Linked DNA regions of Homo sapiens. The protein of the gene in region 2 interacts with the protein of the main gene of each other region in a biochemical or structural test. Each region holds a gene or a part of one and is shown on either strand. Other genes may lie near its edges. The genes, in order: CD52 and SIGLEC10.

Region 1 (4,387 bases), on a different chromosome or scaffold from region 2:
CTGGGGATCTAAATACCTTGTTGAGGGGTGTCCCTGGGACTGGGGATTTCCCTGGATCTGTCATTCTGAAGACACCCAGGTAGTGGGGTAGGGGCTCTCTGAGCCTGGGATGTCCAGGGTGGTGGCATCTCTAGTACCATCATTCCCAAACACCCAGGGATGGATGAAGCAAACGCAACTGCAGGGTTGGTGAGGCTGCCAGGTTCTGGGCCTTGTCCCTGCAATGTGCTTCTAAGGGGAAGGGCCCTCAGCATTGGAATTTAGGTGGGGAAGCTGGGGGCTGCTCCCTGGTGCCAATTTCCCTGCTGATGGGGACATGGGAAACTCCCTGGTGCTGCTGCACAGCTGGCTCTTGGGGCGTAGGGATGTCCAGTAACCACAAGCAGGACCCCACTGCAAGTACAAGGGTAACTTTATTGACCCCCAGCTGGGCACTGCTTGGCCCCTACATCATTACCCCCCTATTTTGGCTGTTGCCCCCATGGCACTGCCTGTCAACTTCTACAACCTGGTGATGTCTGGCATCAACCCCTCCCAAAGATGGAGGGGATTCTCTTGCGAGTGATGGTGGCAGCTGTTTCAGGGGGCACAGGGCTAAGGCTGAGACGTGTCACCTCAACTGAAGCAGAAGAGGTGGATTATGGCATTGGCCACGAAGAAAAGGAAAATGCCTCCGCTTATGTTGCTGGATGCTGAGGGGCTGCTGGTTTGGCTGGTGTCGTTTTGTCCTGAGAGTCCAGTTTGTATCTGTAGGAGGAGAAGTGGGATAAGATCAGGGGACTTTTTTTTTTTTTTTTAGAGGTGGAGTCTCACTCTGTCACCCAGGCTGGACTGCAGTGATGCGATCTCGGCTCACTGCATCCTCCACCTCCCGGGTTCAAGTGATTCTCCTGCCTCAGCCTCCTGAGTAGCTGGGACTATAGGCACGTGCCACCACGCCCGGCTAATTTTTCTATTTTTAGTAGAGACGGGGTTTCACCATGTTGGTCAGGCTGGTCTCGAACTCCTGACCTGGTGATCCACCCGCCTCGGCCTCCCAAAGTACTGGGATTACAGGTGTGAGCCATCGTACCCAGCCCTCAGGGGACTTTTGAATAGCGTGTTTGTTATTTAAAGATGCAGTCCCCTTTCTACCCTCCCCGCCCTCCATCCGCCCACCTCCATAAAACAGTCCTCAGTTCTGCCCCATGTGACCACTACTTCTTCCACAAGGTCCTGTCAGGATGTTTGACTGCTTCCTGCTTTGACACAGGCAGGGACAGAGGTGATCACTGCCCCTGTCCACCCCCTTTCACAGAAACTTTCTGTTTTTTTGAGATAGAGTTTCGCTCTTTTGCCCAGGCTGGAGTGAAGTGGCATGATCTCGGGTCACTGCAACCTCCACCCCTCAACCTCCCGAGTAGCTGGGATTATAGGCAGCCGCTATCACGCCCAGCTAATTTTTTTTTTTTTTCCGAGACAGAGTCTTGCTCTGTCGCCCGCCCAGGCTGGAGTGCAGTGGCGTGATCTCGGCTCACTGCAAGCTTCACCCCCAGGTTCACGCCATTCTCCTGCCTCAGCCTCCCGAGTAGCTGGGACTACAGGCGCCCGCCACCACGCCACGCCCGGCTAATTTCTTTTTGTATTTATGGTAGAGACGAGGTTTCAATGTGTTAGCCAGGATGGTCTCGATCTCCTGACCTCATGATCCACCCGCCTCAGCCTCCCAAAGTGCTGGGATTACAGACGCGAGCCAGCGCGCCCGGCTCGCCCAGCTAATTTTTGTATTTTTAGTAGAGACGGGATTTTGTCATGTTGGCCAGGCTGGTCTTGAACTCCTGACCTCAGGTGATCCGCCTGCCTCGGCCTCCCAAAGTGCTGGGATTATAGGCGTGAGCCACCGTGCCCGGTCACAGAACCTTTCTTTTCACCTTTCCCCAGCGACCAGCCCTTCTGGCATAGAGGGAGACAGGGGAGCCCTGGCCCTTGACCTTCCTAGCCTGGCAAAGGGCTTAGCTTCCCTGAGCCTCAGTTTCATCTTCTGAGTGGGGAGAAGTTCATCACAGTTGTGAAGGTCACATGAGCCAGGGCTGAGTGAGAAAGCACTTGGCAAAGCGTGGGTGGCTGGATGTGGGGTGGGGAAGTGGCCAGATGGTGATCGAGCTGTCCTTAATGCTTGATGGAGCTGCAACTAGAACTGTTCTTGATGGAGATTAAGCTGGTTTTGATGGTGATCAAGCTGTTCTTGATCAAGAACTTGATGGCTCCGGTCTGCTGTACTGACTCCCCTCTGGGCACCTGGGATGCTACCAAAGCTGCCTCCTGGAATAGCAGTCGCTTTTGAGACTCCAGTTGTTTCTGAAATGGGAGAGTCCTGTCTTCTTTGCATTCCTGAACATCCAGGCTTCTCTCTGGCAGGGGAGTGGGGGTTAGAGTGTCCCCTGTCACCTCCATAACCACAGCAGGCTCCACTTGGACATCTCCTGGCCTCTCCCCAAAGGACCATCTCCCCAGACTCCCTGTGGGCCGATGCCTTCCTCACTCAGGGTTGTCTTCCCAAGTCTCTTAGTTCTCTATTATTCCACAACACCCCTTGGGTGCCCCAACGCGCCTAGCACCCTGTAAGTGCTCCCCAGCTGTGGATACAGGTTTCTCTCAGGGCAGCCCGCAAGCAGTGCAGCCCCAGCCAGAAGAGCTGGAAGGCTGGGCGGCCAGGCCCGCTGTGTCCCCAGTTTTCCTGTTGGAGTCCATCTGCTGTGCTCTCAGGAGAGAAGGCTGGGTCTCTGGGAGCTCACATCCTGTATGCCCTCCCTCCATGCCAAGCAACTTTGGGGAGTCCTGGCAGTGGTGCCAGGCGTTGCTCTTACCTGTACCATAACCAGGAGGCTGATGGTGAGTAGGAGGAAGAGGAAGCGCTTCATTTTGGTAGGATCTTCGTGGCTGTCTTGGTAGCAGCTTTTTAGGTGATCTCAGGGCTGTCTGGAGGCTTCTTTTGGTTTAGCTGCTTTTGAACCAGGAGGCAGAGGAGGCGGGGTGAGGTAGGGAGAGGAAGGAGGGCTTACAAGGTGGAGGAGGGGTGTGGCTTCCTTTCTGCAGATCTGGGGGTGGATAATACCAGGCTCTAGGTTCTAAGGCCCTGGCTGGGGGAGCAGGCTAGATCGTACAAGATAGGAGAGAGGTCAATCCAGAGGCAACGGTGGGAGTAAGTAGGGCCCAAGGCCTGGAATCATGCATCCTGCAGGCTGAATCCTGGTTTAATCACTGACCAGCTCTGAGACCCTGGGCCAGAAACTCTACCTCTCTGACCCTTTAACAAAAGAACTGCCGGATTACATGTAATAATAACCAATTTAAAAAGAGCCAGAACATAGCAGATATTCCGTAAATGAGTTTGTTGTTTAAAGAAGATTGGGGCAGGGTATAGGAGCTGAAGGAGAAGGGCTGGGATAGATTTATGTTTCAAGGGAAGGTTGTAGATGGGCTGCAGGTTCTGAATGAAAGCTTGGGAAATGTTTAGATTGTGGAAGGGTTGGTGGATTTCTGTGAAGGTGCTGGAGGTGAGGAATCGGGAAGCCTGGTTTCAGTTGGGCTTTCCCTCTCTAGGCCTCAGTTCCTCATTTCAAGGAACTGGGAAGACTGAAATAGATTATTTCTGAAGTTTGTTAAAACCTAGTGTTTTGTTTTGTTGTTGTTGGTTTTTTTGTTTTTTTTTTTAAACAGAGTTTTGCTCTGTGCACTGGCATGATCTCGGCTTACTGCAACCTCCACCTCCTGGGTTCAAGCAATTATCCTGCCTTGGCCTCCCGCATAGCTGGGACTACAGGTGTGTGCCACCATGCCTGGCTAATTTTTTGTATTTTTTTTTTTTTTTTAGCGGAGACTGGGTTTCACCATGTTGGCTAGGCTAGTCTCGAATGCCTGATCTCAAGTGATCCGCCTGCCTCGGCCTCCCAAAGTGCTGGGATTACAGGCATGAGCCACCGCGCCCAGCCAAGACCTAGAATTTTGTGATTTTGGTAGAGAAAGTAGCAAGCAGATGGGTTGTTTGTATTAGCTGAGGATGAATGGGAGGGGAGCGAGGGAAGGGACAAGTGGGTGACTAAGCTACAGTGGAAGGGGACTGGGGTGAGAGAGTGGCTGTGAGGGCCCAGGGAGGGGTGGGGGGATGAGAGGAATCCCACAGCTGCCTGGATAGTGCTCCATGCTTTATGCATTCCCTCACTTGATACCCTCTGTGGTGCCCTGCAGCAGGTGTTATGTTTATCCCCATTTGACTGGTGAAAAAACTGAGGCTTAGATGTTAAGTGACTTGCTAAGGTCGTAAATGGTGGAGCCAGTCTCATTTGACCTTGAATCCAGGTCTGTCTGAAGCCACAGCCATGTATGTAACCTCTGGGGCTGCCCTAGA
Region 2 (2,879 bases):
TCAACATGGTGAAACCCCGTCTCTACTAAAAATACAAAAATTAGGGGGGCATGGTGGTGGATGCCTGTAATCCCAGCTACTCAGGAGGCTGAGGCAGATGAATCGCTTGAACCAGGAGGTGGAGGTTGCAGTGAGCCGAGACCTTGCCACTGCACTCCAGCCTAGACAACAACAGTGAAATCCCATCTCAAAAAATAAAATAAAATAAAAATAAATAAAATAAAGAATAGCATGCATGCACGGAGAGAAAGACTGGAGGGGGTGAGAACGGAAGCAGAGAAGGCATGCAGAAGGGGCCAGTGGTGCCCGGGGTGGGGTGGGGGGTGTTGATGCATGGCTTGTAGTAGTGAGGGAAGAGTAGGGAGAACTGGCTTGGTTGTATTTTGAAGGGAATTTGCTGATGGATTGGTTGTGGGGTGACAGAGAAGAGAGGAGTGAAATATGATTCTAAAGCTTTAGACTTGGCTGGGAAAATGTGGTGTTATTTGCTAAGATGGGGATAGAGATGGAGCATAAATGGTGGAATTAGTCTTTTTTTTTTTTTAGATGAAGTTTCGCTCTTGTTGCCCAGGCTGGAGTGCAGTGGCATGATCTCACTGCAACCTCCACCTCCTGGGTTCAAGTAATTCTCCTGCCTCAGCCTCCCGAGTAGCTGTGATTACAGGCACCCATCACCATGCCCAGGTAATTTTTTGTATGTTTAGTAGAGATGGGGTTTCACCATGTTGAACACGCTGCTCTTAAAATTTTGACCTCAGGCGATCCACCCACCTCGGCCTCCCAAAGTGCTGGGATTACAGGTGTGAGCCAGCAGGCGTGGCCTTTTTTTTTTTGAGACAGGGTCTCACTCTGTCACCCAGGCTGGAGTGCATGGTGTCATCATGGCTCACTGTAGCCTCCAACTCCCAGGCTCAAGAGATCCTCCCACCTCAGCCTCCCAAGTAGCTGGGACAATGGGCATGCACCACCACACCCGGCTAATTTTTTATTTTTTTTGTAGAGAAGAGGTCTCACTATGTTGCTCAGGCTGGGGAATTATCTTAAGTTGGTTTTGGACAGGCTAAGTTTGAAGTGCTGATTAGACACCCACATGGAGATGTTGCATAGACAGTCTTCAGGGAAGGAGCCACGAGATACAATTTTGCAGTCATCAGCATAAGATGTTATCTCTTAATAATTTCCAGAATTTACAGAGTATTACCCAGGGGCCAGGTGATATTCTGAATATTTTATTATGCAAGTACAATATATTTAACACCCAGCATCATCCTAGGAGGTGGCCGCTAGTATTGTCTCCATGTTACAGCTAAAGAAATTGAGGCACAGAGAAGTTAAGACACTTGTTTCATGACACAGTGATGACAGCAGGATTTGAACCCATGCAGGCTGATTTCAGACCCCCTGTGCTGAATCCCTAGGATGCCCAGCCTCCCGATGATACACATAATTGTTAAGCAGTTAAGTGTAGTCATGTCAATGGTGGCAGTAATAATGGAACAATGGCTACAGATTGAGAAAGTGCATGTATTCTAATCCTCAAACCAACTCTCAAAGGAGACAGAGGAAGAAATGAAGGCTCAGAGGGGGTGAGTGACGTGGCTGAGGTCTCATAGCTAGTAAGTGCCAGGCAGGATTTGAATTCAGAACTATCGGTGCTTTTCCCACCTTGATGTCGCTAAGACAAGGGGTGCAAAAGTCAGAAAGTGGGATGTCAGCTTTAGAGAAGAGAAAAAGTGGAAGCATGGCCCAGACACTCACCAGGGGGCCAGCCGTCGGGACCACATTGATGTAATCCAGGATCGTGCTGTGCCGGGAGAACCTGGGCCTCGGGGTTTCTGTCTGAGTCCGTCTCTTCGGTAGAATCTTCATGCTGAGGAAATGAACCCACCTGTTTGTGCCCTGCTGCACCTCCCTGTGACAGACTGCCACGTTTACTACCTGAGACCGTCACTATGACAGTTACTACTGTTACCACTTGAGACCGTCATTATGAGACTGAAAGAAGGAGGACAAACGTAGAAATGAAAACTTAAGACAAAAGAAATTATTTTAAAGGAAGGGGTCAGGGGAAGAAGAAGAGGGTTCCCTGCTACTAGTGAGCCAGGGCAGCTGTCTGAGCCTCTACAGCCCTTTGTATTTATTGGGTAGAAAGAGCAGAGAGCAGGAGGTAACAATTGGTCAGCTGTTTAATTGATCACAGGTTCATATTATTACTAACAAGCTTCAGCTGTGCCTAATTACAAGAAACACTTCGCTTGGGGCGTGACTGCCCTCAGCATTCCCTCTGGGAAGCAGACGCAGTTTGTCAGTTGGACAACATTCTGCATTTATGAGAACAGTTTGCTGTTTACTCATGTAACCTCCAGAGGTATACTGCGTTGATCACGACCTTCACTCTTTCGGCCTGCAACACCTCCCCTCTTCCTGGGTCCAGGCCCCAGACCCCGCCACGCCTCCTCTTAACCTACATGATCAGGGCCAGGCAGAGGAAAAGAAGAGCCGTGATGCCGATTCCCAGAAACGCTCCGTTGGAGAATGCCGTTGAGATGAGTCCCTTCTTATCTGCACACGGAGAGGGCAAGGTGAGCATTTCCCATCCACGCAGGGCTCACGAAGCCCGCTCATCACTCGGCATTAAGGCTTCCGGTTCCCATGGCGGACATTGTATCTGCAACCCCTCTGTTTACTTTTAGGAAACCCTGCCACACCCCGGCCCAGGTGTTAGGACTTCCCATTGTGTTTTCCTGTCTACATACAGATGCCACGGGTCTGCTGTGTCCCTCCAAGCTCCTGCTCCAACCACAGGACCCTACTCTTTGCCCCAGTCAGCTTCTCCTCCAAGAACCTTGGCATCCAGGCGGCCCCCTAACCTGGCAGCT

The links.
Region 1: the proteins of SIGLEC10 (region 2) and CD52 form a complex in vitro, tested with the Homo sapiens proteins (one large-scale study listed by IntAct).

Annotation. Positions count from the first base shown.
Region 1 is NC_000001.11:26,316,531-26,320,917, reverse strand, and holds CD52 (CAMPATH-1 antigen precursor), read right to left. Parts: upstream 2,961-4,387; 5' UTR 2,901-2,960; coding exon 2,847-2,900; exon of another isoform or gene 2,563-2,846; intron 748-2,562; coding exon 616-747; 3' UTR 395-615; downstream 1-394. UniProt on the Homo sapiens protein: May play a role in carrying and orienting carbohydrate, as well as having a more specific role.
Region 2 is NC_000019.10:51,411,954-51,414,832, forward strand, and holds part of SIGLEC10 (sialic acid-binding Ig-like lectin 10 isoform 1 precursor), read right to left. Parts: coding exon 2,871-2,879; intron 2,563-2,870; coding exon 2,469-2,562; intron 1,871-2,468; coding exon 1,759-1,870; intron 1-1,758. UniProt on the Homo sapiens protein: Putative adhesion molecule that mediates sialic-acid dependent binding to cells. Preferentially binds to alpha-2,3- or alpha-2,6-linked sialic acid. The sialic acid recognition site may be masked by cis interactions with sialic acids on the same cell surface.